Linked DNA regions of Homo sapiens: regions 2, 3, 4 and 5 are each reported to be linked to region 1. Evidence: microRNA targets listed by miRTarBase, many of them from high-throughput screens and not tested one by one. Region 1 holds a microRNA gene; each other region holds the end of a gene's coding sequence.

What was found. The annotated mature microRNA hsa-miR-6501-3p reads CCAGAGCAGCCUGCGGUAACAGU and lies in region 1 at 3,683-3,705, opposite strand. An mRNA with a match to its seed (bases 2 to 7 or 8) in the 3' UTR can be bound and repressed. Matches are read on the target gene's strand: a 7mer-m8 pairs with bases 2 to 8, a 7mer-A1 pairs with bases 2 to 7 and ends in A, and an 8mer does both.
Region 2: miRTarBase lists MN1 as a target of hsa-miR-6501-3p. Seed matches in the 3' UTR shown: 7mer-m8 at 3,446-3,452 and 8mer at 2,880-2,887.
Region 3: the mRNA of RPL22 is a reported target of hsa-miR-6501-3p. Seed matches in the 3' UTR shown: 7mer-m8 at 1,804-1,810.
Region 4: miRTarBase lists ATG14 as a target of hsa-miR-6501-3p. Seed matches in the 3' UTR shown: 7mer-m8 at 874-880, 8mer at 1,296-1,303, 7mer-m8 at 1,357-1,363 and 7mer-m8 at 3,444-3,450.
Region 5: miRTarBase lists OBI1 as a target of hsa-miR-6501-3p. Seed matches in the 3' UTR shown: 7mer-A1 at 1,390-1,396.

The regions. Positions count from the first base shown.
Region 1 is chr21:33,549,305-33,554,409 of GRCh38, reverse strand. MIR6501 (microRNA 6501) reads right to left here and starts at 3,748; the gene lies at 3,682-3,748. It overlaps SON (SON DNA and RNA binding protein), which reads right to left. Exons shown (of 12, transcript NM_138927.4): 3 at 1-4,934.
Region 2 is chr22:27,746,685-27,751,786 of GRCh38, forward strand. It overlaps MN1 (MN1 proto-oncogene, transcriptional regulator), which reads right to left. Exons shown (of 2, transcript NM_002430.3): 2 at 1,593-4,412. The coding sequence ends at 4,231. Among named protein-coding and RNA genes, the nearest start is that of CPMER, 34 kb to the left of the region's middle. RefSeq lists enhancers at 252-752, 2,769-3,639.
Region 3 is chr1:6,182,184-6,187,288 of GRCh38, reverse strand. RPL22 (ribosomal protein L22) reads left to right here. Exons shown (of 4, transcript NM_000983.4): 4 at 473-2,269. The coding sequence ends at 617. Among named protein-coding and RNA genes, the nearest start is that of CHD5, 4.4 kb to the right of the region's middle.
Region 4 is chr14:55,364,824-55,369,918 of GRCh38, reverse strand. It overlaps ATG14 (autophagy related 14), which reads left to right. Exons shown (of 10, transcript NM_014924.5): 10 at 1-3,528. The coding sequence ends at 300. It also overlaps a transcript of FBXO34 not described here. Among named protein-coding and RNA genes, the nearest start is that of ATG14, 44 kb to the left of the region's middle.
Region 5 is chr13:78,610,765-78,615,852 of GRCh38, reverse strand. It overlaps OBI1 (ORC ubiquitin ligase 1), which reads left to right. Exons shown (of 6, transcript NM_024546.4): 6 at 1-1,564. The coding sequence ends at 273. OBI1-AS1 (OBI1 antisense RNA 1) reads right to left here. Exons shown (of 6, transcript NR_047001.1): 6 at 1-178. Among named protein-coding and RNA genes, the nearest start is that of POU4F1, 9.8 kb to the right of the region's middle.

The DNA of each region.
Region 1 (5,105 bases):
CTCAATATTGGCAGAAAATCCTGAATCAGGCAGTGTCTCTTTAGGAGGGGGAGGTACTTCTTTTTCTCCTCCACTACTTTCTTTAGGGCTGAGCAGAGCTGCTAATGTCTGGTCACTCTCTTTTACAGGTAATGGTTCTTCTGTATCCTTACTAACAAGGTTATTATTAGATGGTAAATCAAGATGAATATCTTTAGCAGGCAAAGGCCCTTCAATGTCAGCTTCACTACCACCACTAGGACTGGTGGAAATTACCATGTCATGTTCAGTATCTTGAGTAGTTAAAGATAAATCAACATCATATTTATTAACTAAACTGAGAGTAGATGCTGTGGTAAATTCAATACCCTTACTAGTTCCTGTTGCATCAGGTTCCAGAGCAAAAGGACCAGTAGAAGATAGAGTTTCTCCTGCATCAGCTTCACTAACACCAGGGTAGGTATCCAATACTGTGCGCTGTTTAGTCTCACTGGTGGGCAAAATTTTCTCTTCACCAATTTCCCCAACAGGACTAGTACCAGCAGCACACACTGTATTATGTTCCATCTCTTTAGCAATTAAATGATTATTTATATTAAGGTCTATATTTATACCATGTTCACTTTCGTAAAAGTCACCTTTCAGGTGTTCCTCAGCATGTGGTTCTTCACCTGAATGCAATGCAATCTCCTGCATGCCAATCTCTGGAGCAAGATTTTGATCACCAGAGGATAGATTAATTCCTTTCATAACATGTGATGACATGATACTAGATTCCAGTATCATTGGTGTGGACTCTATAGCCACCTCAGTTGGTATTACTTGAGTCTGCTCTGAGACTGTGACAGCAGGCTCTGAAACTGTCACAGTCGATTCCTGGACAGAAACAGATGGTTCTGAAACAATCATAGAAGGTTGAAGGACTGACACCGCTGGTTCCAGAACAGGCACAGAAGGCTCCAGCGCAGAAACAACTGGCACAGGAATGGTAACATAGTCTGGCTCAGCCACAACAGGAGGCTCCGGGACAGTCACAACCGAAGGCTCCAGGACAGTTACAGTCGAAGACTCCAGGACAGTCACAGTCGAAGACTCCAGGACGGTCACAGCCGAAGACTCCAGGACAGCCATAGCTGAAGACTCTGGGGCAGCCATGGCTGGCGGCTCCAGAATGCTCTCTGCCAGCACTGGAGTAGTTACTGCTGGAACCAACAAGGATGTAGATACTTCTGAGGCAACATGTCCTGAGGCTCTCATGGAATCAAATGTTTCTGCTGTCTCTGACATAACAGGAGGCTCTGATGCTAACACAGTTGGTTCAGCTGACATGGCGGGAGTTTCAGATACCATACAAGTCACTGGTCTCTCTGGAACAACTTCATGTTCTTCTGCTACTACTGCAGACTCTACAGGTGTTAACGTAATTGAAGATTCTGGCTCTGGTGGTGGTTCTGGAACAGTCACAGCAGCCTCTGATACTAAAACTGAGGGATCTGATGCTGACACTGAATAATCAGTAGGCACTGCTGAAGGCTCCGAAATCTCACTTTGACTCACAGGAGGCTCAGGCTGCGATACAGACTCTTCAGATGGTGATGATGGCACCTCTGTAGGCCAAGTATTTTCAGCTGTTAATGCTGACTGCTCAGTGGGCAATGCTGGACCCTCTGGTGGTTCCTCAGGAGGCAATGGTGGTGTCATTGGTGGCTCCTCAGGTGGCAACGGTGGCATTGTTGGGGGCTCTTCAGGAGGCAAAGGTGGCACCATATATGCCTCTGTATATGTGTCAGTGTAAGAATCGGTGTAAGAATCAGCAGCCATAGACATCATTGAACGATCAGCAGTATAAGATGACATCATAGATCGGTCAGCTGCAGAGTACGATGACATCATAGACCGGTCAGCAGCAGAGTATGACGACATCATAGACCGGTCAGCACCCATGGACATCATAGATCGATCAGCCATTGGGGACATCATGGAGCGTTCATAAGCTGACATCATGGAGCGTTCATAAGCTGACATCATAGAGCGCTCAGCCATAGGGGACATCATAGAGCGCTCGTAGGCTGACATCATAGAGCGCTCGTAGGCTGACATCATAGAGCGTTCAGCCATAGGGGACATCATAGACCGCTCATAAGACATCATAGAGCGTTCGTAAGATGACATCATGGAACGTTCTGCAGCATAGGACATCATCATAGAACGTCTAGATGCTAACATCAGGGGTCTAGGTGCTAACCTATATGGCCTGGGTGCTATTCTATAGGACCTGGGTGCTATCCTGTAGGGTCTAGGTGACATCCTATAGGGATCAGGAGTTAGTCTGTAGGGATCATGGCCTAATCTATAAGGGTCTTGTCCTAACCTGTAAGCATCATGACCTAATCTATAGGGGTCATGGCCCAACCTATAGGGATCCTGAGCTAACCTGTAAGGATCCTGAGCTAACCTATAGGGATCAGGAGATTTTGAACCCAACATAGCAGAATCTTGGGTACTAGACGCTAACATCTGGGCATCCATGGTACCAGACGCTAACATCTGAGCATCCATGGTGCCAGAAGCTAACATTTGAGAGTCCATAGTGCCAGATGCTAACATCTGGGAATCCATTGAGCTAGTTGCTAACATCTGGGAGTCCATGGTGCTGGTTGCTAACATCTGAGAATCCATGGTGCTGGTTGCTAACATCTGGGAGTCCATGGAGCTGGTTGCTAACATCTGGGAGTCCATGGAGCTGGTTGCTAACATCTGGGAGTCCATGGAGCTGGTTGCTAACATCTGGGAGTCCATGGAACTGGTTGCTAACATCTGGGAGTCCATAGTGCTAGTTGCTAACATCTGGGAGTCCATGGAGCTAGTTGCTAACATCTGGGAGTCCATGGAGCTAGTTGCTAACATCTGGGAGTCCATGGTGCTAGACGCTAACATCTGGGAGTCCATGGTGTTGGATGCTAGCATCTGGGAGTCCATGGTGTTGGACGCTAGCATTTGGGAGTCCATGGTGTTGGATGCTAATATATGGGTCTCCATGGTGTTAGAAGCTAATATATGGGATTCTGGGGCCATCAAGGGATCCACTCCTACTGTTACAGAAGTCTCCCCCACTAATGTAGTAGGCAGCTCCTGTGCTACCGTATTATAGGATTCCAGCGCTGTCGTCGAGGGCACCTCCAGGGACTGCGACACGGTCATCGTTGACAGCTCCGATGTTGTCACCACAGACTGAACAGAGATCTCCAGCGCCACAGTTGCCACAGGCTGCCCAGGCAACTCTGGCGCCCCAGGCTGCCCTGGCAACTCCAGCACCCCTGTTGCCAGAGGCTGCCCCAAAAGCTCCAGTGCTCCAGCTGCCCCAGACTGCCCCGAGAACTCCAGTGCCCCAGCTGCCATGAGCGGCCCAGGCAACTCTAGTGCCCCAGTTGCCACAGGCTGCCCCGACAACTCCAGTGCCCTAGTTGCCGAAGGCAGCCCTGGCAACTCTGGCACCCCAGTCACCGAAGGCTGCCCCGGCAACTCCAGCGCTGTCGTTGCCACTGGCTGTCCTGGCAACTCCAGCACCATCGTTGCCTCAGGCTGCCCCAGCAACCCTGTTGCCGTTGTCACCTCAGGATGCCCAGGATGTTCCACCGTTGTCATCCCCACAGGCTGCTCCAACTCTGTCGTCGTCACAGGTTGTTCGGTCAACTCCATTGCTACTGTTACCGCAGGCTGCTCTGGCAACTCTACTGCTGCTGTCACCAAAGGCAGCCCTGGCAACTCCTGTGCCATCACAGGTGGCTCTGGTACCTCCTGTGGTGGCTCCAACCCCATGGATGGTGCTGGAAGCCCTGGCAATTCCTGCGACAACTGTGGCACTGGTGTCACAGAGGGCCCTGGCAACTCAGGCACTGCTGTCGCAGGGGGCCCTGGCAACTCAGGCACTGGGGTAGAAAGGGGCCCTGGCAACTCTGGCACCGGGGTAGCAGAGGGCCCAGGTAACTCCAGCACTGGAGTCACAGGGGGCCCCTGCAACTCCGGCATGGAGGTCGCAGGTGGCCCCGGCAACTCCATCGCTGAGGCCACCGACGACTCCTGCAGCTCCAACGCTGTGGTCTTAGGCAGCTCCGGCAACTCCTGCGGTCTTGTCATGGATGAATCTGCAATCTCCGATGGTACGTCTACAGGCTGCTCTGGCAATCTTAGCGCTTCAATTGCAGATGACTCTGGAAAATCCATTGTTGTTGATGTGCTTGGCTCAGGGTACACCTCAGTAGGTGTCTCTGATGATACCACAAGGGTTTCTGAAGGCTCTAACACTTTTGCTACTGGGGGCTCTACCAACATGATCTTTGATGGCTCTGGAGATGTGCTCTCCACAGATTTCAGCACAGACTTCATCTGATACTCCACTGACATTGTTACAACTGGCTCAGATGACTTCAACACCAGTGTTGTAGTAGGCACTGGTGCTGCTGCAAAGGAATCCAGAATCTTTGTCATGGATGGTTCTGGCATTACTGCCACAGACTGCTCTGACTGCTCTGAGATTACTGATGTAGATACAACTGACAGTTCTGCAGTTTTTGTAGCTGGCTTCAGAGTTTCTAAGATGTGTGGCTCTGATACCTCCATTGATACTACAGGAGGTTCTAGCACAACTGCAGGGGATTCATTGGTCTCAGATGGGCCAAATGCTCTTGTAGGAAGCTCCAGCGCCACAGCTGAAGGTTCAGAATCAAACTTTAAAAAGGAATCAGATTCTAAATCTATGTTCCCATCATCATGAGATTTCGTCTTTGACTCAGATTCTTCTGGCTGTCTTTTATATTTTTTTTCCTTTTCTTTCTTCTTTTTCTTCTTTTTGTTTTTGTGCTTTTTATGCTTCTTTGACTTTTTAGTGGGAATTTCATCAGTAGGATCTGTTTGTACAGATACGCATCTACTTTTTCTGGAGCCCTCTTTCAAGTCTAAAAGTAATAGAAATTAATTTTGTCAGACATTCCCCAAAGTAGAGTTAGATTAAATCATATAAACCCATATTTACATTCCATGTTAAAACACCTTAGTACAGGCCAAGTACAGTGGCTCACGCCTGTAATCTTAGCACTCTGAGAGGCCAAGGCAGGTGGATCATGAGG
Region 2 (5,102 bases), not on the chromosome of region 1:
GTTTCCCCTCTGTGCCTGGCACTGTGCTCAGGAGTCTTCCCATAGACAGCTCTGTGGGGTCATAACACTCTTTCTGTCCACTCTACAGCCAAGAAAACTGAGGCTCAGAGAGAGTGCACTGCCTACCTCCCGGAGACCCAGTGACTGCAGAGGTTTTTCCACTCAGGATTCCAGCCCCAGTGACAAAGTAACTATGGCAGGTAATCTTCCTAAATGTGTTCTTTGCTCCTGAGATGGGGAATTTCCTGGATGTAATTAAACGTTTTACCAGCTTAATGCCAGTCTGGGGAGCTTCTGTTCACACTCTGCCTTAGTGTGATGTTTTCCAGGGTAGAGTCATTGGAGACACGTGTAAGCTGTTTGCCTCCACACTGAATGGCCGCGCTGCAGCTCTCAATCTGCCGCCATCATTTCTGACTCATCTTCCCGCTCCAACCTGGCATTGGGCGCCCACCTACATTAGCCCTCTGATCTGCTGTGGGCTGTGAAAGAAGGTAACTGCACCTGTTATAATTAGGTGTAAAATACAAGTTCAGAGGTTCTGATTCAGTAGTCTAGCACAAGGCCAGAAATCTGGAGTTAACAAGAGCCCTTAGGTGTTTCTGCGGCCAGGGTTCTGTGGACCATGCTTTGAGAAACACTGAGAGGTAAAGGTGCAAAAGGGAAGGACAGGAATGGTCTGCAGTGGCCTCAGGTCTGAGGCTGCAGATGCCGGAGTGAAGCCACTGCCCAAAGAGTGGCCCATAGGCAAACCGATCCTTTTACAGGGCTGGTGCTCACAGTGAGCTTCCAGCTAGATGTTACTTGCTCCACTTAAGAAACAAAAAAACTGGGGGCTGTAGTTAAGCCGCTTGCCCAAGGTCCATGGCTGTAAGGGGAGGAAGCAGCATGCGCCCCAGGACAGCGTGACTCCAGACCGCCATCGGCTGCCCTGTGGTAAGATTATGGTGCTGATGCTGACGCTTTATGCACATGAAGCCCTTCCTACATGTTGTGTCCAGTGCATTGTCTCCGATAACAACCCCACGAGCTAGACCCCTTTCAAAGATGAGGAAAAGGTGGAGCTGAGAAGCTGCATAACTTGCAGGAGATTCCCAGGCTTACTAGGATCTGAAACTGAACACTAGAACCCAGAAGCATAAGCATCACCCTACACAGCCACTGGGGGGGGCACTTCCGTTGCCCCCTCCCTCCTACATGAGTCAGATACAGGGTTCTTGGCCCCCAAAGGATCTTTCCCCCAAGGAGACATTGGGCAATGTTTAGATAGGTTTTTTTTTTTTTTTTTTTTTGGCATCTAGTGGGTGGAGGCCAGGAATGCCGTTCAACCTCCTCAAATGCCTAGTTGCCCCCCTTACACTCCAGCAAAGAATTAACAGGCCCAAAATGTCAATAGTGCCAAGGTTGAGAAATACTGAAATGACCCAACTTAGAACATCAACACACACACAGACACACACACACAGACACACCCACTACAGCATCCAAACCTACACCCCTACGTCCCATAGAATCTGAAGAGACTGATGTAAAAAGGGGATAGAGTTGGGAGGAAACAAAGAAAGCGAGCCCCACCCACAAATATACCACAGTCACCATTAACGTCATATTTATTGTTATTTAACTGCTCAGGAAAACATATACAGGTATATACAATATGCAGGAATACAGAAGACTGCACTTTACATATTTTTTTAAAAAAGAAAGAAAAAAATAACACTCAATTTCATGAGCTATTGTCACAGTCTTCCAACCAAGCATTTCAGAAATGAATTTCTTTTAAGAGTCAAAAAAGATTACAGGATTGCCTAACACACAGCAGAGTTAAGTTTTCATATTTTACATGTGCAATAACATTTTCGTTTTCTTTCCCAAAGAGTTTGCTATGCAGTACTGATTACCAGTGTTCGGAGTCTAGTGTGTAGGGTGTGTTTTTCATTTACTTTTATTCTTTCCATTAAACCAAATTTAATGAAATAACATCCTTTTGCTTAAGGCTATTTTTAAAGCTGTTTCATTCTGGGGTCGTGGGGAGCGAGAAAGTTTTTAAAACTTCAGGGGTTTCTGAGGTTGCCAGGACCATGAGCTAATTGGCAAAGTGTTGATGACTCAACGCTGGGAAAGTCAAAGACAGAAGTTAAGACACTTTGCTCCCCGGCCTTAAGCAATTAAGGAGAAATCATTCCTGTTTCAAAAGTAAAATGATGAGGCTCTCAAACAGCTGTACACTGCAGAATCAGAGGGGTCATGGAGTCTTGCCCAGAATACGGTCAACTCTCCCACAGCCCATGGTGGGGGGAAATTCCCTTCCCTTTCCATTCCTTTTGTAGCAGAACGCAGGAACTGCCTCGGCTCACACCTTTCTCGCTGATCAATTCATGCCACCTGCTTTGTCTGCCCTCTGAAGGCGGGGTTTGCTCCTCGTCAAGACTGCCCAGGCGAGAACCGCAGACTCAGACCCCAGCCAAAAGGACCGGCAGAAGGAAAGAGGGGAGAAGGGAGGGGAAAGAGTGAGGTTTTTCTGAAAGCTCCTCTCCCTTCGCTGAAAAGTTCTTTGAAATAAACAACGTGGGTGTTGTATGGTGAGCCCAGAGCCTTCAGGTCACTTGCTTTAGAAAGCCCAGATCTGCAAACTCTGAGGACCTGGAGGGGGTGGGGGAGCTCAAAGTGGAGCGTTTTAGTAAGACACGCTCGTTAACAAAAACTGAAATTAAATAGATAACCATCACGGTTATATATTTGGGTGAAGTGATATCAGTTACTTCCTGTCTAACCCACCGGGGAATCTATGTGCCCCCCACCACAAGCCATAAATGGCTTTTGCAGGCATCAGCAGCACCCAAAGTTGCCTGCCCCTGCCAACCACCACTCATCTCTGCTCAGAGCAGTTATTCCTTTGTGAGATGCTTGGGACATGGCTCTAGTTTTGCAACAGGGTGAGATTCCAAAAAAATGTTGGGGAGGGGGCAGAGGAATTCCAGAGTTCAAAACTAAAAGGCGCAGGAATCAAAGTCATTTCATTCTATTCTCTTTCTCTGTCCTCTAGCCCTCAGGAGTCTGCAGATCCCTGCAAAGGCTCAGAGAAGGCTGAGCAGGCTGAGCAAGAGGGTGCCTCATCCCTCCCAGGGGTGGGGTTGCCCAGGCTGGACTGGGGATGGAATGGGAGAGGTGGAGGAGATACACGCAGTCCCCTCCTTCTTCCCTGGGATGCCCGGCCAGGAACAGCTTTCAGAAAAGGGAAAGGGCTGAGAACAGCCTCCTCCAACTCCAGCACCCAAGGCACGGGCAGCAGCCTTGCTCCAAAGACTGCAGGCTGGGAGCACACCATCCCCCATGCAGACCAAAGGCTGCTTAGCACAGCGTGAAAATGCAGGGCCTGGGCATTTGCGAGGAGGCCCAGAAAAGGAGAGAAAACACTGCTGTCGAACATTCCAACTCCTTCCCACAGAGCAGAGCTGGACACGTCCTCACGTCCATCGCAGAGAGGGGCGGCTTCCAGCAGGAGAAGAGAGAACTCAAGTGGAAGGGAACTGAAGGCTGAGCACTGTGTTTGCAGGAATGAAAATATATTTTCTTAGGGAACAGACAAAACAAAATCCCAGGCGGAATACCTAAGAGGGGCATTCATTGTTTGGCTCCTGCCTGACTGATGACACTGGGGTGTCAATATATAACATTGTGATGACAATTGGACTTTCACCCGGCAATATTCCAGAACTACTATTCTCCAGGATTTCCATTTTAATAAGCAGTGAACAAAGCAAAAAGAAAATAAAAGGGGAGGGGGTAAGAAAAGGAAAAAGAATAAAAAAGAAAGCAACTCTTGTCTTATTATGAAATAACAATACTTGGACATACAGCAGCATGAAAACAAAACAAGGAAAGAGGTCATCTAAAAAATGTATGCCAAGATTACCGAAACATGGGGAGTATCTAGAGGAAAAAGGCTTAAGCAAAAGTTTGCTAACTGCAGAAGGGTTAACACTGGTAACATACTGTGGCAGACAAGTTTCTTTTTTAAAAAAACTTTTGAGGTTCCCCCCCTTTAAATTAACCCTTTCCGGTCCATATGCCACTAAGCAGGTACCAACCTAGAGAAAAAAAAAAAACTCATCCACTCAGCAATAGTGGCCCTTTCAAATTAACAGAGGGGTGGGGTAAGGTTGAGGGGGAAGGAAACAGACAGGGGGAGAGGAAGGGCCTGGTAGAGGAGGGGATCTTTCTTGTCATTCAAGTTAGGGCAGCCACGAATGTCCCAAATCTGTTGGAGATGTCAGAATGCAGGGACCGCCAGGTGGGCACGGAGGCTCGAGCCTTGGCGTCACCCACGTCGTCTGTGCAGTGGACAGACAGGCACTGCAAGTGGCTGCCAGGCTGGGATGCTGAGGCCTTGTTTGCAGGGAGGTCGTGGGCTGTGGAGAGAGAAGGAAGAGAGGACATTAGTGGCACACTCGTCTCTGAGGGACACCATAATGGGGGCCAAAGTGGCAGAGGCATACAAGACAGGCACCGTCCACGCCCTCTTTCCATGGCTAAAGCTGGTCCCAGAGGATCTAGAGATGTTGTTTTGAATCTTCTTGCTGTTACCCCTGATTCATCTGTGAGATCTCAGCCAAGGGAAGACCTCCCTGTTGGGCCTCAGTTTCCCCACTGGGAAATAGGAAAGTGAGGCAGGATAAACTCAGAGTTTGCCCATCTCTGATGCACCAGAGTTCCCAAAAGATTAACTGGACGTGATCTAAGTCAGGAATGCTTCCTGGAGGAGGGGCATCTAAACTGGGCATCAAAGGATGTGTAGGAGTTCGCCGCATGCAGTGAAAGGGTGGAGGGGAGGATTGTCTGGGTCCAGAACACAGCCTGTTTGTGTGTCATCCTCTGGAGAGACATTTGCTTAGGGCCTACCACGAGCTGGGAACTTTCTTAAAATGTGCCAGACTGCATACCAACTCCAGGGGGGAAGGATGATCACCTCTACTTTACAGCTAAGAAAACTGAGACTCAGAGAGGGAAGATGACTTGCCCCGAGTCACACAGGAGAAAGTGTGGAGTCACAGCACCCTTTCCAGAGGAGCAGGAAGGATGGAGAAGGTGCCTGTGGATAC
Region 3 (5,105 bases), not on the chromosome of region 1:
TCACCCAGGCTGGAATACAGTGGTACAATCTTAGCTCACTACACCCTCCGCCTCCTGGATTCAAGGGATCCTCATGCCTCAGCCTCCCGAGTAGCTGGGATTACAGGCGTGCACCACCACGCCCAGCTAATTTTTTTATTTTTAGTAGAGATGGGGTTTCACCATGTTGTTCAGGCTGGTCTCGAACTCCTGACCTCAAGTGATCTGCCTGCCTTGGCCTCCCAAAGCGCTGGGATTACAGGCCTGAGCCACCATGCTGAGGCTATTCTAATTGTTACTGCCGATGTCGATGGTACGTGGCTGATAACTCAGAGCCTTGGCTGGGTGTATTTGCCTTACCTTTGCCATTTTTGAGGCTTGGGAAAACACCTTGAATTGTAATGATTTTGAGTGCTGGGTTTTATAAATGTTAAAATGTTTTAGAATGCAAGCACCAACTGTCTAGTGGAGTTCTTGTGTCCTTTCTCTGCAGGTATTTGAAATATCTCACCAAAAAATATTTGAAGAAGAATAATCTACGTGACTGGTTGCGCGTAGTTGCTAACAGCAAAGAGAGTTACGAATTACGTTACTTCCAGATTAACCAGGACGAAGAAGAGGAGGAAGACGAGGATTAAATTTCATTTATCTGGAAAATTTTGTATGAGTTCTTGAATAAAACTTGGGAACCAAAATGGTGGTTTATCCTTGTATCTCTGCAGTGTGGATTGAACAGAAAATTGGAAATCATAGTCAAAGGGCTTCCCTTGGTTCGCCACTCATTTATTTGTAACTTGACTTCTTTTTTTTTCTGCTTAAAAATTTCAATTCTCGTGGTAATACCAGAGTAGAAGGAGAGGGTGACTTTACCGAACTGACAGCCATTGGGGAGGCAGATGCGGGTGTGGAGGTGTGGGCTGAAGGTAGTGACTGTTTGATTTTAAAAAGTGTGACTGTCAGTTGTATCTGTTGCTTTTCTCAATGATTCAGGGATACAAATGGGCTTCTCTCATTCATTAAAAGAAAACGCGACATCTTTCTAAGATTCTCTGTGGGAAAATGACTGTCAATAAAATGCGGGTTTCTGGGCCATTCGTCTTACTTTCATTTTTTGATTACAAATTTCTCTTGACGCACACAATTATGTCTGCTAATCCTCTTCTTCCTAGAGAGAGAAACTGTGCTCCTTCAGTGTTGCTGCCATAAAGGGGTTTGGGGAATCGATTGTAAAAGTCCCAGGTTCTAAATTAACTAAATGTGTACAGAAATGAACGTGTAAGTAATGTTTCTACAGGTCTTTGCAACAAACTGTCACTTTCGTCTCCAGCAGAGGGAGCTGTAGGAATAGTGCTTCCAGATGTGGTCTCCCGTGTGGGGCCCAGCAATGGGGGCCCCTGATGCCAAGAGCTCTGGAGGTTCTTGAAAGAGGGGACACGAAGGAGGAGTGACTGGGAAGCCTCCCATGCCAAGGAGGTGGGAGGTGCCCTGGAAATAGCTGCCTCATGCCACTTAGGCCATGACTGGATTTAATGTCAGTGGTGTGCCACAGTGCAGAGGCTAGACAACTGAAAGGGGCTACCAAGGCTGGGAAAAAAATGCAATTGTTGCTGTGAGTGACTTTGAAAGACTCTGGTGCCTTGTGGTGCCCTTCTGAAATTCAAACAGTAATGCAAAAGTGTCTGCATTAGAATTTACGGTGTCTAAAATTCATGTTTTTAAAAGAGCTTGCCTACAGATGGTTTCCACACTTGAAATTGTGCCCTGCGAGTTGCATAGCTGGAAGTTCAATGCTCAGTCCTACCTTGGCTCCCATTAAACATTTGGTGCTCTGTGGATTGAGTTGAACGTGTTGAGGCTTTGCAATTTCACTTGTGTTAAAGGCTCTGGCATTTTTCCATTTCTATGCAAATTTCTTTGAAGCAGAATTGCTTGCATATTTCTTCTCTGCCGTCACAGAAAGCAGAGTTTCTTTCAAACTTCACTGAGGCATCAGTTGCTCTTTGGCAATGTCCCTTAACCATGATTATTAACTAAGTTTGTGGCTTGAGTTTACAAATTCTACTTGTTGCATTGATGTTCCCATGTAGTAAGTCATTTTTAGTTTGGTTGTGAAAAAACCCTGGGCTGAAGTTGGCATTTCAGTTAAAAGAAAAAAAGAAACTAGTCCCAGATTTGAAAACTTGTAATAAAATTGAAACTCACTGGTTTTCTATGTCTTTTTGAACTCTTGTAATCGAGTTTTGATCATATTTTCTATTAAAGTGGCTAACACCTGGCTACTCTTACTGTACGAGGCTTTGTTTTTTTTAAGGACTGGCATGTGAAGAAAAGCTTTGTCCTCACGAATTAGTTGCTGTACCAACAGTTACGTTGGTCTTTATTAGGCTTAGAAGAAAAGATGTCCTTTATTTCCACTTTTCTTCCCTTAGTTGTGCTGTTTTGCCGCAGTGAGATTCAGGGGTTGGCTGTCACTGAACTCTGTGTAGAATTTCTCCAGATCCAGAGTCTGGGGATCAACTTTGCCAGCAAATGCCGTTTTCTGATGGGGAATAGGTAGTGTCAACTTGAATTCCATCACAACCATGACACCAGCTGCGCCCAAAGCACACTGTAGACCAGTTTCCTTTGTTTTGACTCACACCTCACTTGCCTGATCGAAAATAGTTGAGGCACAGGGGCTGACTGGGGTCGTGGAGAGTTTCAAGCCGTGATTTAAGTTCATAAGAGTCCGGAAACAGGAGGTTGGTCTCGTCTCAGCCAATGCCAGTTACACAACACCTTCACGCCCTTCCCTCGAGTGTGCTGGTACAGCTGAGGAAATGAGGTTTGTTGATGTCACTAAGTGCTACGAACTAGTCACTTCTAAAGGCTTCATGTTTTCCCTCCAAAAAGCCTCTGATCCCCCTTTTCCCATGGCACTTCCAGTGGTGAAGTGTTTGGGTTTTGAGGACTGTTGTCCTCATACATTTTCAGGAGCAGCCAGGTGTTGAAATACGTGGGTCCTAACTTTGCTCATGAATGGTGTGTAGCACAGAGGTGGTCAGAAACACGGGGAAAGTGAGGAAGTTGGATAATACCAAGTGTCTTAAGACAGTTGATATCTGGGGCTATCTAGAGCTCAGCCTTTTTAGGGGACACTTGATTTCCTGGAGGGTGATAAGGACCCTGGTGATGGGGAATAATGGTCCGGCTGTTGAAGTCATTGATGTCAGGGGAGCCTGGAATTTGGTGTTGACACCTGATTTCACTTTCCATTTGTACATGGGACTCAGACCCTTAAACTTGTCAAGTATTGTAAACCAAGACCTCCCACAGGAGAGGGGGACCTAGGATGTGGGACAGTTACAGATCTGGCAGTTCCAGGGGACAGACCATCTCCCCAGTAACCCTTGGACAGAATACTGGGGTGACGAGTCAGAAGCTGCAGGGTAGGGGCACCACGGCGGTGAGAGATGGGCCAGGTCCCTGAAGGAGAGCCTGGGTTGGCACCTGCCCAGGTTGTTCGCTGAGTCGTGGTGATGGGCCTGTATTTAGTGGAATAAACTGTGGGGTTGATTCTCTTTGAGGGAGAAGAGGGTAGAAGAGAGGCTTGGTGTGGGGATTTGCCATCCCTGCAAGGAGGTAGCCCTCCACCTACAGGAAGGAGGTGAGGACTGCCTGTTAAACGGTGCAATCATAGTGCTTATCTCTAGGAACAGGAAACTGAATTTCTCATCCAGCCATTTTCTTGTCTTTGGGATGGATTTGAGAATACACATTCTTTTTTTTCCCCCAGGCTATTTTGGGCCCAGCTAAAACAGTCTGTAAAGGCTGTGCTGACCAGCGGAGTGAGTTAGCTGCCACCATAGCTAGAACCCAGAGAACACCCATAAAACGTTCTCAGGCTTACACAAGGATTTTCTCAGGTTCAGGGCCATGGCCCAGGGCTGCCTTTTTGAGAAGCTCCTTCCTCCCCTGCAACCCCAACTGATTTGAATTCAGGTGGTGCAGGGTCCACACTTTCGGAAAAAGCCTTCAAGTGCAACGAAAGTCTTGGTGCAGCAGGTGGGCACTGAGCCTTCATTGCAGAGGACACTGCGGTCCTGAGTGACGCCGTTTCACCCCTGCCGAGGAGGAGGTGTGGGGCAGAGTTTTGATCTATGTGACTCGCTGTGAGGTGGTGTATGTACAAGCACTTCATTGCCCTTGAGAAGCTGGTGGTGCCAGGTGGCCACAGCGTGGATATGCATTGTTGAACGAAATGGCCTCAGGCAGGCCTTGGGGGTTCCTGGATGAGGAGTTCATTTAGTCCTGGAATGGAAATTGAGTATGGTATGTGCAGAAGACGATGAGCTTTTTCCACTCTGTTCTTGGAAAAAGTTTTTTTTTTTTCTATTTTTGAGACAGTCTCGCTCTGTCACCCAGGCTGGAGTGCAGTGGCGCAATCTTGGCTCACTGCAACCTCTGCCTCCTGGGTTGAAGCGAATCTCCTGCCTCACTCGCCCGAGCAGCTGGGATTACAGGCGCCCGCCACCATGCCCGGCTAATTTTTGTATTTTTAGTAGAGATGGGGTTTCTCCATGTTGGCCAGGCTGGTCTCGAACTCCTGACCTCAGGTGATCCATGACTGCCCGCCTCGGCATCCCAAAGTTCTGGGATTACAAGTGTGAGCCACTGCACCCAGCCGAAAAAAGTTTTTTCCTTGATGCTTTTGTAACCGGTATATTAAAAAATATTTTGATTTTGGAATTGTCACTGAGGTGTAATTATGAGCTCTATGATCAGCAAACATGAGAATCTTGTCTCCTAAAACAGTAACCTTAATGATAGGCTTGTTCTTGCAACGCAGAGTTGCAAGTTTCAGGGATTGCTTTTAACGTCATGCATTTTTGGTCCGTTGTCATTAAAATACCCATTTAATAGTTTAACAATAATAAGGGCTCACCTTTAAAAATGACTGGAGAGCCGGGCATGGTGGCTCACGCCTGTAATCCCAGCACTTTGGGAGGCCGAGGCAGGCGGATCACGAGGTCAGGAGATTGAGATCATCCTGGCCAACAGGGTGAAACTCTGTCTCTACCAAAATACAAAAAATTAGCCAGGTGTGGTGGTGCGCGCCTGTAGTCCCAGCTGCTACTGGGGAGGCT
Region 4 (5,095 bases), not on the chromosome of region 1:
CCCTTTGAAGTACGAGCAGACCTTGAGGAGTCCATGGAATTTGTGGATCCCGGAGTTGCTGGAGAATCAGATGAGAGCGGAGATGAGCGCGTCAGCGATGAAGAAACCGACCTGGGCACAGACTGGGAGAACTTGCCTAGTCCCCGGTTTTGTGATATCCCTTCCCAGTCTGTGGAAGTCTCCCAGAGTCAGAGCACCCAGGCGTCCCCACCCATCGCGAGCAGCAGTGCAGGTGGGATGATCTCCTCTGCAGCAGCCTCGGTGACCTCCTGGTTTAAAGCTTACACTGGACACCGTTAACGAGCATGGACCAAAACATACCAAATCTGCATCAAGAAAGTTCTTCTCCCACTACACTCTAGTAAACATTTTCTGTTTAAGTTAAGATAGTGTCTGGAACAAAGAGGTTAAAGTGTTGTTTTGTTTTGTCTTTTTAAGCAGGGAGACAAACATTTCTATTTGCCAAGTGGCCTGTGATGGTGACCAACATGCTTATGATAATTAAGAGAACAGGGGTCGAAGGTCTTTCTACCCAGACCAGTGCTGGTGGAAGGAGGACCTGTGCGTGTGGCCAGTTCTGCCAAGGAAGCAGTTGATTTGGGTTCCCTCTGGGCCCGGGCCACCGGGCCCACAGATATGGGTCAGTGTGCTGGTCCTTGCGGTGCTGAGACTGTTCCTGACACTTTAAGTTTTAGAGGTTGGTTGAATCACAAGAGGTGATTCTTGATTATTAGGACATGAAAGATAAAAGCTCTTTAATAAGAGTTTTTCTGCCATTGTTTTTTGTATGAGAACCAGCAGGCAATTTAAAATTTCTAATTTGGTCCTTTGATTTTGTTTGGGAGGGGTGAGTTACACGTATTTTATTCATGCTGCTCTGTCGTAGTTTGTCAGACATTCCTGTTTTTCTTTCCCCCACACACCAAAGAAAATGAAAGTCTTTTTCTTTAGGACCCACATCCATAAATGGAAGAAATCCTGGCTGCAATAATGTCTAGAGAGTTTTTAACTATTTTCTTGTATTCTGAGGGGAATTAAGCTTATTCTTACCTAGTTGAATTCCTGCCATCCACACTATGAGCATTTTGAAATTGAACTTATATTTTCTGGGTGAAAATAAGTCATGAAGGTCATTCCCTTATGTAAGCTCAATGCCTGCCTGGGCACAGGGGAAAAGCCACTTAGTTAAGTGGCCTCTGGTCATTCTTGTGGTGTCCACTTTCTTTCTATGGGATTGAGTAGGTGGCAGGTGTTTTCAGGGGAAACCATCCTACTTGTTTCCCCGAACTCTTTGTTGCTCTGAGGACACAGCTTTGCTCAGAAATGCAGCGCAGATCCTTACGGCTGATGCTACTCTGCTCTGTTCTGGGGAAAGCACAATATAAAGAAAGAATTTCCCAGCCAGGCGCAGTGGCTCACGCCTGTAATCCCAGCACTTTAGGAGGCCGAGGCAGGCGGATCACTTGAGGTCAGGAGTTTGAGAGCAGCCTGGCTAACATGGTGAAACCCTGTTTCTACTAAAAATACAAAAAATTACCGGGTGTGGTGGCGCACGCCTGTAATCCCAGCTACTCGGGAGGCTGCGGCAGGAGAATCGCTTGAACCGGGAGGCAGAGGTTGCAGTGAGCCGAGATTGTGCCATTGCACTCCAGCCTGGGCAACAAGAGCGAAACTCCGTCTCAAAAAAAAAAAGAATTTCCCTCAGCAGGAGATCATTTTCAGCTCACGTGTCTTGTCATTCTTTTAGTGACAATCTTACAAGAAAACTATAATGAGAGAGGCATTATGTACAAATATGTAAGTAGTTTATTTTTAATAACTGCAAAAAAATCCTATGTAACAACTACCAAAAGAAATCCTATGAAAGAGTCCTAACAGGCATTATTACCATATCTTATGTGATTGGCATGATAGCACCTCTGATAAATCATTCAGAGGTTTGCCATGCCCCAGCTTCTTTTCTCATCATAATAATTGTAGTTGATACTTTGCCTCCAAGTCCGAGGTGCTATATAGCTTTTGCTAATGGTATATTTGGTGTTTTGTATAGTTTTGGGTAGAGTTGCAGAACGGAGTTTATTTCTATCCGGTAGTCACAAATTCCTTGGCTCTATGAATTTTCCATGAAAGGAGGAAGTAGGCTTTTCTCGTTGTGGGTGGTCTTTTTTTTTTTTGGAGACGGAGTCTCACTCAGCTGCCCAGGCTGGAGTGTAGTGGCACCATCTCCGCTCACTGCAACCACCATCTCCTGGGTTCAAGCAATTCTTCCATCTCAACCTCCCGAGTAGCTGGGATTATAGGCACCTGCCATCATGCCCAGCTAATTTTTGTATTTTAGTAAAGACGGGGGTTTTCACCATGTTGGCCAGGCTGGTCTTGAACTCCTGACTTCAGGTGATCCGCTTGCCTTGGCCTCCTAAAGTGCTAGGATTACAGGCCTGAGCCACCGCGCCCGGCCCCTTATGGGTTCTTCTACACTGCTGGGATCTCTGTTTTAAGTGCTCAGCTTCATGATTGATTGCTGGGCTTCCATTTTCCCATCCAGTTCTGGAGTTCGTAGAGAGTGAAGATGGTAGACTTGAACAGATAAATAAACTTAACGATCTTGTAAGAGTTGTCTAGCTACTTAAAACCCTCAGAAGTAAGAGCTTAGTCTCACGAGTTGTAAGAGTGGGATTTGGAGCTTGGTGGTGGAGACTGACTTCAGCTGAGAGATGCACAACAGTCATGGTTTTCTTAAGCCTCTTATGAAACCATGAATGAGAGATGAAGCTAAAGAATAGAATCCAGAGATCACAAACTCATCTAGAGTACTTCCACAAAATTTACAAAGATGTGGGAACTTTATGGATAGGATATATTTTGTTTGTTGTTGTTAATATCAACTAGAGGCACTTTACATAGGGTTAAGTGATCGAACCCTTTTGTGGTTTTGAACACCAACATACTGGCTTACACTGCTGAAATATTTTGGGTTTCATTATTTTGCACTGGATCCACCCTGTAAATACTCTTAAGTATACATTTCAACCACTGTTTTTTCTACTCTTTTTGCTGCTCATTAAAATCTTTCATGTAGGTGCCAGAACCATATGTAAACAGCTTTTTAAAAAATTGAAGCTGGTATTTTGTTTAAACAAAAAGCCATAGAACTTGGTCATGTTTTCCATTTTAAAATGATTTACTGAAACAAAGTAATACTAATAAAAACCCACAGGCACCAAACAGGCTGCTTAAAATGGTCTGTTAAAGACATTTTTTGGTTATGGAATATAAGAAAAGTTTTGCACATCTGTAAGGGGGAAAAACAGTATATCACCATTGGGTAGAGTGGACGGGACTCATGTAAGGACTCAATTTGGGGAAGAGCATTCAGTGGCATGCTGTTAGAGGACTAGTGTCCGAGAATCTCCTCACAGTATCATGTTGCAGGAATTCCCCATTGCTCTGCAACTTCCAAACCAGTTTGAGTCATACAAATGTTTTCTAAACTTTTATTGTATTACTGCAATAAATCTTTTAACAGTACTTTGCTCATGTGTATGTCTTTTTCAAACTGTTCATTTGCACTGCTGCATCGAGGGTAGCAAGAATGAGATTGAACCCTGGAGTACTTTATACAAATTATAGAAGAAGTTTGTAGAATTTTTTTGCCAGGTAAGAAAAAATGTTAATATATTTTTTAAAATTATGGATTATGGTGGTATTAACAATGATCTTTCCCAAGCTGAGAAGCTGGTTGCATACTTTCCCTAAAGACGTGTTTTTCTTTGGTAGCCATCATTTGATGCATGTGACCTACAATGACCTGGTTTTGTGCAACAGACCCCTGGGGCAGAAGGCCTCTAGGATGCCCACGTGGAACCTGCCCAGACTTTCTTCAGGACAAGAGGAAAAGGGAAATGTTGGAACCACTCAGATGCCTGAGTAGCTTTGGAGAATCCCTCCCCAACCCAACACCCTTATTTTTTATAACTAATTTCTCCCAGGTGGGTAGTCGGCGGTACCCTTCAGATTAGATTATTGTAGAGAAGGACCACCTGCAGGTGGTGGAGAAGATACCAAGAGTGACTACTGTGGAAGAGCCAGGCCAGCCAGGATACCCTCAGGAGCTATTGCCATGGTCATACTGCCCCTTTATCTGGAGCAGAAGGCTGGCAGGCAACAGGAGGAAATAGGCAAGGAAACGGAAGGGTTCTCGAACAGGGTGTGTGCTTTGGTGGTACTGTCCTTCAGTCTTTCCAGGCAGCAGTTTAAAGCATGCTCCCATCTGGTGTTTAAAGGGAGATTTCTCCATCCTGAGTTATGTCATGATTGATGCAGGAAACAGATTGGGAGGAATTAAGGATAACTTTGTCATTGGTAGTGGGGAGATTATTTAAAAGTTGCATCAATAAAATGTACCAGAAAACTTGAAACTGGACTCTTGGGCAAGCCATCTGCACCTCAGCCTTGAAATTCAATGAGGAAAACCACCACCAGCCGACTTGGTAAGAAAATACACTGCAAAGAGTATTTTCCAGTGCTTAGATAGTTGAAGTGAATTTTTTTTAGGGCGGGGCACAGTGGTTCATGCCTGAAATCCCAGCACTTTAGGAGGCCAAAGGCAGGAGGATTGTTTGAGCTCAGAAGTTCAAGGCCAACTTGCGCAACATAGTGAGACCCCATTTTTGTTTTTTTTTTTTTTTTTTTTGAGATGATAGAAGAGATGATAGAGTCTCACTTTGTTGCCCAGGCTGCAGTGTAGTGGCACGATCTCGGCTCACTGCAAGCTCTGCCTCCCAGGTTCACACCATTCTGCCTCAGCCTCCTGAGGCAGGTGTCTGCCACCACACCTGGCTTTTTTTTTTTTTTTTTTTTAAAGTAGAGATGGGGTTTCACCACATTAGCCAGGATGGTCTCAATCTCCTGATCTCGTGATCTGCTCGCCTCGGCCTCCCAAAGAAGTGCTGAGATTACGGGCGTGAGCCACTGCGCCCAGCCAGTGAGACCCCATTTCTACAAAAATTGAAAAATTAGCCAGGCATGGTCGTGTGCATCTGTGGTCCCAGGTACTCAGGAGGTTGAGCTGGGAGGATCACATGAGCCTGGGATG
Region 5 (5,088 bases), not on the chromosome of region 1:
AATGAAATCAAACCCCCAAGCTGCTTGTTTCAGACAGAGTTTTCCCAGGGCATTTTGTTAAGCAGTTCACATCGACTATTTGAAGATCAAAGATTTGGGTCATCTTTGTTTAAGATGTCCTCAGAGATGCACAGTCTTCATAACCACCTTCAGTCTCCTTGGTCTACTTCCTTTGTGCCTGAAAAGAGGAATAAAAATGTGAATCAATCAACAAAAAGAAAAATCCAGAGCAGCCTTTCCAGTGCCAGCCCATCAAAAGCAACTAAAAGTTGACTCATTAGAAAGGTGTCATTTGTGGTTTTGTCCTGAGAGAAATAGAAAAGTTGTTAAAGTTACCTTTTTTCCTCATAAAAGTTCTATACAAATTGGAATTGATAATCTTTAGTCAAGTATCAAGTCAGGATGGTGGATTAACCTGTACCCAGAATACTTATTGTTCATTTTGAAAAGACTTTGTTCTTTTCATTTTTATTTGGGAGTCTTTGTGACCAGAGAAGTTAGGGAGGAGGTTATTTTTGTGTTTTGGGGTTGGTTGGTTGGTTGGTTTTGTTTTTGGTTTTGTTTTTTTACTGAATTTGATATGTATCTCGGTTGGATATACATTGTTTTTTTAAAAAATGTTATTTAACTGTTAGATACAGTGGCCTGTTGATAAGCCCCACTTGTCTTCAGAACTTGGATTTCTTAAATAAAACTTTTAGTGTTGTCTATACACTGCTCAATAAGACACTTGAGTTTAAGCTTTTCCCAGGGTGGAAATTATTTTACCTGTCCCTTTTTATTTATGTTTAGTGATGGCCTAGTTTTTCTGCAGGGCCATGATGGAGAAATAGCACTCTAGCCTTAGTCCAATATTGATTTACTTTCTTTTTTTAGGTTTTATGTATATGTTTGCATTTTTTAGCATTGTGTTTTGTCCAGTTTTGTGAAAATGTTCTGCTAGTATGAAAGAAAACATTTTCTATATGAAGACATTTGTTTTATGTTAGGTAGCTTACATTTTCTCCTCTGCGTGTGTGTGTATGTGTGTAAAATCAGAAATTTAGCATACTATGGAAAGAAGGCATGGAGCACTTGGGTTTAGAGGAACCTAAAACATCATAGCTTCATTGTTCCAGATGTAACAGGTTTGAAAGAGCTCATCGCCAAGTTCTTGATCCACTTGCATTCCAGGGGAGTTTTCTTTTGAGTAGTATGTTTCTTGTTTGCATGTTCCTGTTCTTTGTGGAAACTATGCATGGTAGCATTTTTGCTTGCTGTGTTTTCCATACTTAAGAAAAAGAGGTTTCAGTTGGCTGATAGAATATCTTTTATGTAGGACAAAACTTTTCTGTGAAGAGTGTTGAGGGGGTGAAGATAGGTAAGAGGTAAGCACAATTTTTAATTTAGGCTCTGAAAAAGTGTATTGTTCTAAACGTATTTGGTATGCCTATATAGGTCTTTAAAAATGGGTATGTATGCTGTTTAATGTGCACTGAACATTTTACATTAATATTGTACTGTTTTACATTAATACTGCATGCTTTTCTATGTGAATTGAATAAAGAATGTCATAAGCACTGTGTTCCTTGATGTCGATGATGATTCTTTGTCTCGTATATTGAATTAGCCTATAAAGACCAGGAAAAACTACTTTTTTTTTTTTTTGAGACGGAGTCTCAATCTTGTCGCCTAGGCTGGAGTGCAGTGGCGCGATCTCTGCTCACTGCAACCTCTGCCTCTCAGGTTCAAGCAATTCTCCTGCCTCAGCCTCCTGAGTAGCTGGGATTACAGGCACCTGCCACCACACCCAGCTAATCTTTGTACTTTACTAATAGAGACAGGGTTTCGCCATGTTGGCCAGGTTGGTCTCGAACTCCTGACCTCAGGTGATTCTCCTTCCTTGGCTTCCCAAAGTGCTGGGATTACAAAAAACTACCATTTCTTAATTGATTTTATAATACATTGAAAAACTATGGTTCATGGACCAAATCTGGTCTGCGGCTATTTCCCAGGCTGGAGTGCAGTGGTACAGTTATGGCCCACTGCAGCCTCGGGTGGGCTGGGCTCAAGCCATCCTCCCCACTCAGTCTCCCACAGATCTGGGACTACAGGCATGCACCATGTCAGGCTGATTTTTTAGTTTTTGCAGAGACAGCGTCTCATTATGTTGCCCAGGCTGGTACTGAATTCCCAGGCCCAAGTGATCCTCCTGCCTCAGCCTCCAAAAGTGCTGAGCCACCACACCTGGCCAATCATAAAATTCAGTTTTATGCATTTTAATCTTTTTTAAAAATCTCCCTTGAAAGGCCTGTGAGCAAAAAATGGAATTTACAGTTGTAGAAGGTTTTTAAAAATCCATAGATTATTGCATAACACAGGAAAATTATATTAAAGTCACATTTCATTGTTTCTAAATAAAGTTACTTGAACACAGTTACACTCATTTGTTTACATATTACCTACAACATCTAAAATATTTACTATCTGGTCTTTTACAAAAAAGTTTGCCGACCCTTGTTATAATAGACTGAGGATTCAATGAAACCATAAAAGTGACAATTCACATTTGTAATTTGAAGAATCATGTCCTCCACTTATAGAAGTAATAGCCAGAGGCCGGCGCTGTGGCTCATGCCTATAATCCAAGCACTTTGGGAGGCGGAGGCGGGCCGATCACCTGAGGTCGGAAGTTCGAGACCAGCCTGACCAACACGGAGAAACCCCCATCTACTAAAAATACAAAATTAGCCAGGCATGGTGGCACATGACTGTAATCCTAGTTACTTGGGAGGCTGAGACAGGAGAATCGCTTGAACCCAGGAGGCGGAGGTTGCGGTGAGCCGAGATAATGCCACTGCGCTCCAGTCTGGGCAACAGGAGCAAAACTCTGTCTCAAAAAAAAAAAAAAAAAAAAAAAAAAGCCAGAAAGAGCTAATTTAAAGCAGAATTTTGTTTTATGTTACATATTTTCCAATCATTTTTCTGATATGTTAAAGCTAATGGATACATTCAGAGCTATTGGCACTTTAAATGTCTTTGATAATATGACTACACGTTAGAAACTCAAATATAGAAATTAAAATTTTTCTGCCACAGGTTAAATTTAGGGGTGGTATGATCTAAATCTGTGTTCCTCCAAATTCACATGTTGTAACACCCAAGGTAATAGTACTAAGAGGTGGGGCCTTTGGTAGGTGATTAGGTCATGAGGGCTTTGCTTTCTCTGAATGGGATTAGTGCCCTTATAAAAAAGGCCTGGGTGCCAGGCACAGTGACTCAACGCCTGAAATCCCAGCATTTTGGGATGCCGTGGCAGGCGGATCACGAGGTCAGGAGATCGAGACCGTCCTGGCTAACACAGTGAAATGCCATCTCTACTAAAAATACAAAAAATTAGCTGGGCGTGGTGGCGGACGCCTGTAATCTCAGCTACTTGGGAGGCTGAGGCAGGAGAATGGCTCCAACCCAGGAGGCGGAGGTTGCAGTGAGCCGAGATCGCACCACTGCACTCCAGCCTGGGTGACAGAGCAAGGTTGCAAAAAAAAAAAAAAAAAAAAATGCCTGGGGTAGTTTCCTTGCTTCTTCCGCCATGTGAGGAGGACACAGCTAGAAGGTAGCATCTTTGAAGCAGATACTGAGACCTCACCAGAATCTGCTGGTGCCTTGATCTTGGACCTCCCAGAACAATGAGAAATAAAATTGTATTGTTTAAAAATTAGTCCAAAACATTTCATCATGGCAGTACAGATGGATGAAGACAAGGGGTAAGCCTCATTGTACTTCTATCTGTAATCAAGGATGTGTCTTTTTAGTCCAAATACACACTGACACTGTGACATGGATATCTGGAGTGTGTAACCTGATTTACTAATGACTAACCTAGGTGAAAGCATCTATGTTGGACTAAGGTATTTTCCCACTGCTTATATTCAGAAACATCCCTCCATTCTCCCTAAAACAGTATTCCATGTATTAAATGTGTGCCATTTATTTAAAGGGTCTAATCTGTGTAGGATTTTATTTTAATCACACATTCTCATTTGTACTCTTTACCACTTTACCATAATGTGATGTCATGGTAAATATGGTGGTTTCATAGATTTTTAAATGTATCTATTATGTACACACACTCCAGGCAAAAACAAACAAAAAACAACCCTATCTTATACTAAAACTAAGTATCTTGCTAAGTTAACCTCTATTTCATCTAATTCCTTATTTCATCTAATCCCTTCTTAAAACTTTGTGAACCAAGTACTGTCGTCCCCAGTTTACAGAAAAACAAATCGAGAAAGAGTAATAACACAGCTGGAATAGATATGAACCATATCTTGGAGCTGGGTCTGTGGCTCTAGAGCTTCTGCTCTTCTCCCTTGTGTAATAAAGAATTCATATTTATAGACTAAAGGACAAAGGGCTTTGAAACTTTCCAAGAATTATTTTTAAAGTATTTTGGAAGTATTAACATGTTTATTTTTTATTTTTACATTTGAGACAGGGTCTCGCTCTTAAGCTGGAGTGTAGTGGTGCGAACACAGCTCATTTCAGCCTTGACCTCTTGGGCTTAGCATGTTTCTTTTACAGTAGCATTTAGTTCCTGAGTCTGACTACTAAACAGAAGCTCAACGGTGGGAGTTGTGTGTGTGCCACTTAATAGATTCACACTGACTCTGACATTTAGATTAAGTTAACCTTCCTGTCTTGGTTAATTTCACTAAGGCTATGATAGAAAAAGATGTACTCATGATAAGGAAGCAGACAGTTCATGTTTTTAGAAAAATATCTTTTGACTGCTTAAAATGCTTTGGCTATGGGAATGTGACAGGATGCTAGCAGTTTTGTTTGTTTTTTGGTCATGACTTAGTATTCATCTTTTATTTTTAAAATCATTCCATCCAAAAATGCCAAGTCTTTTTCCTGTTTTATGGAGTTAGCTGACACACAAAAAAAGAACATGGTACAGTAGTTTACAGTCCTTTAATTTCAAGTCGGCTTTGTTTCCCAATCATCTCTTGGCCATCTACATTGGTTTGAAAAGACTACTGAAAAAGACAACTTGGTCTTGAGTCTATGATGTTTCAGGAACTTCTTGTTTCTACTTGAATG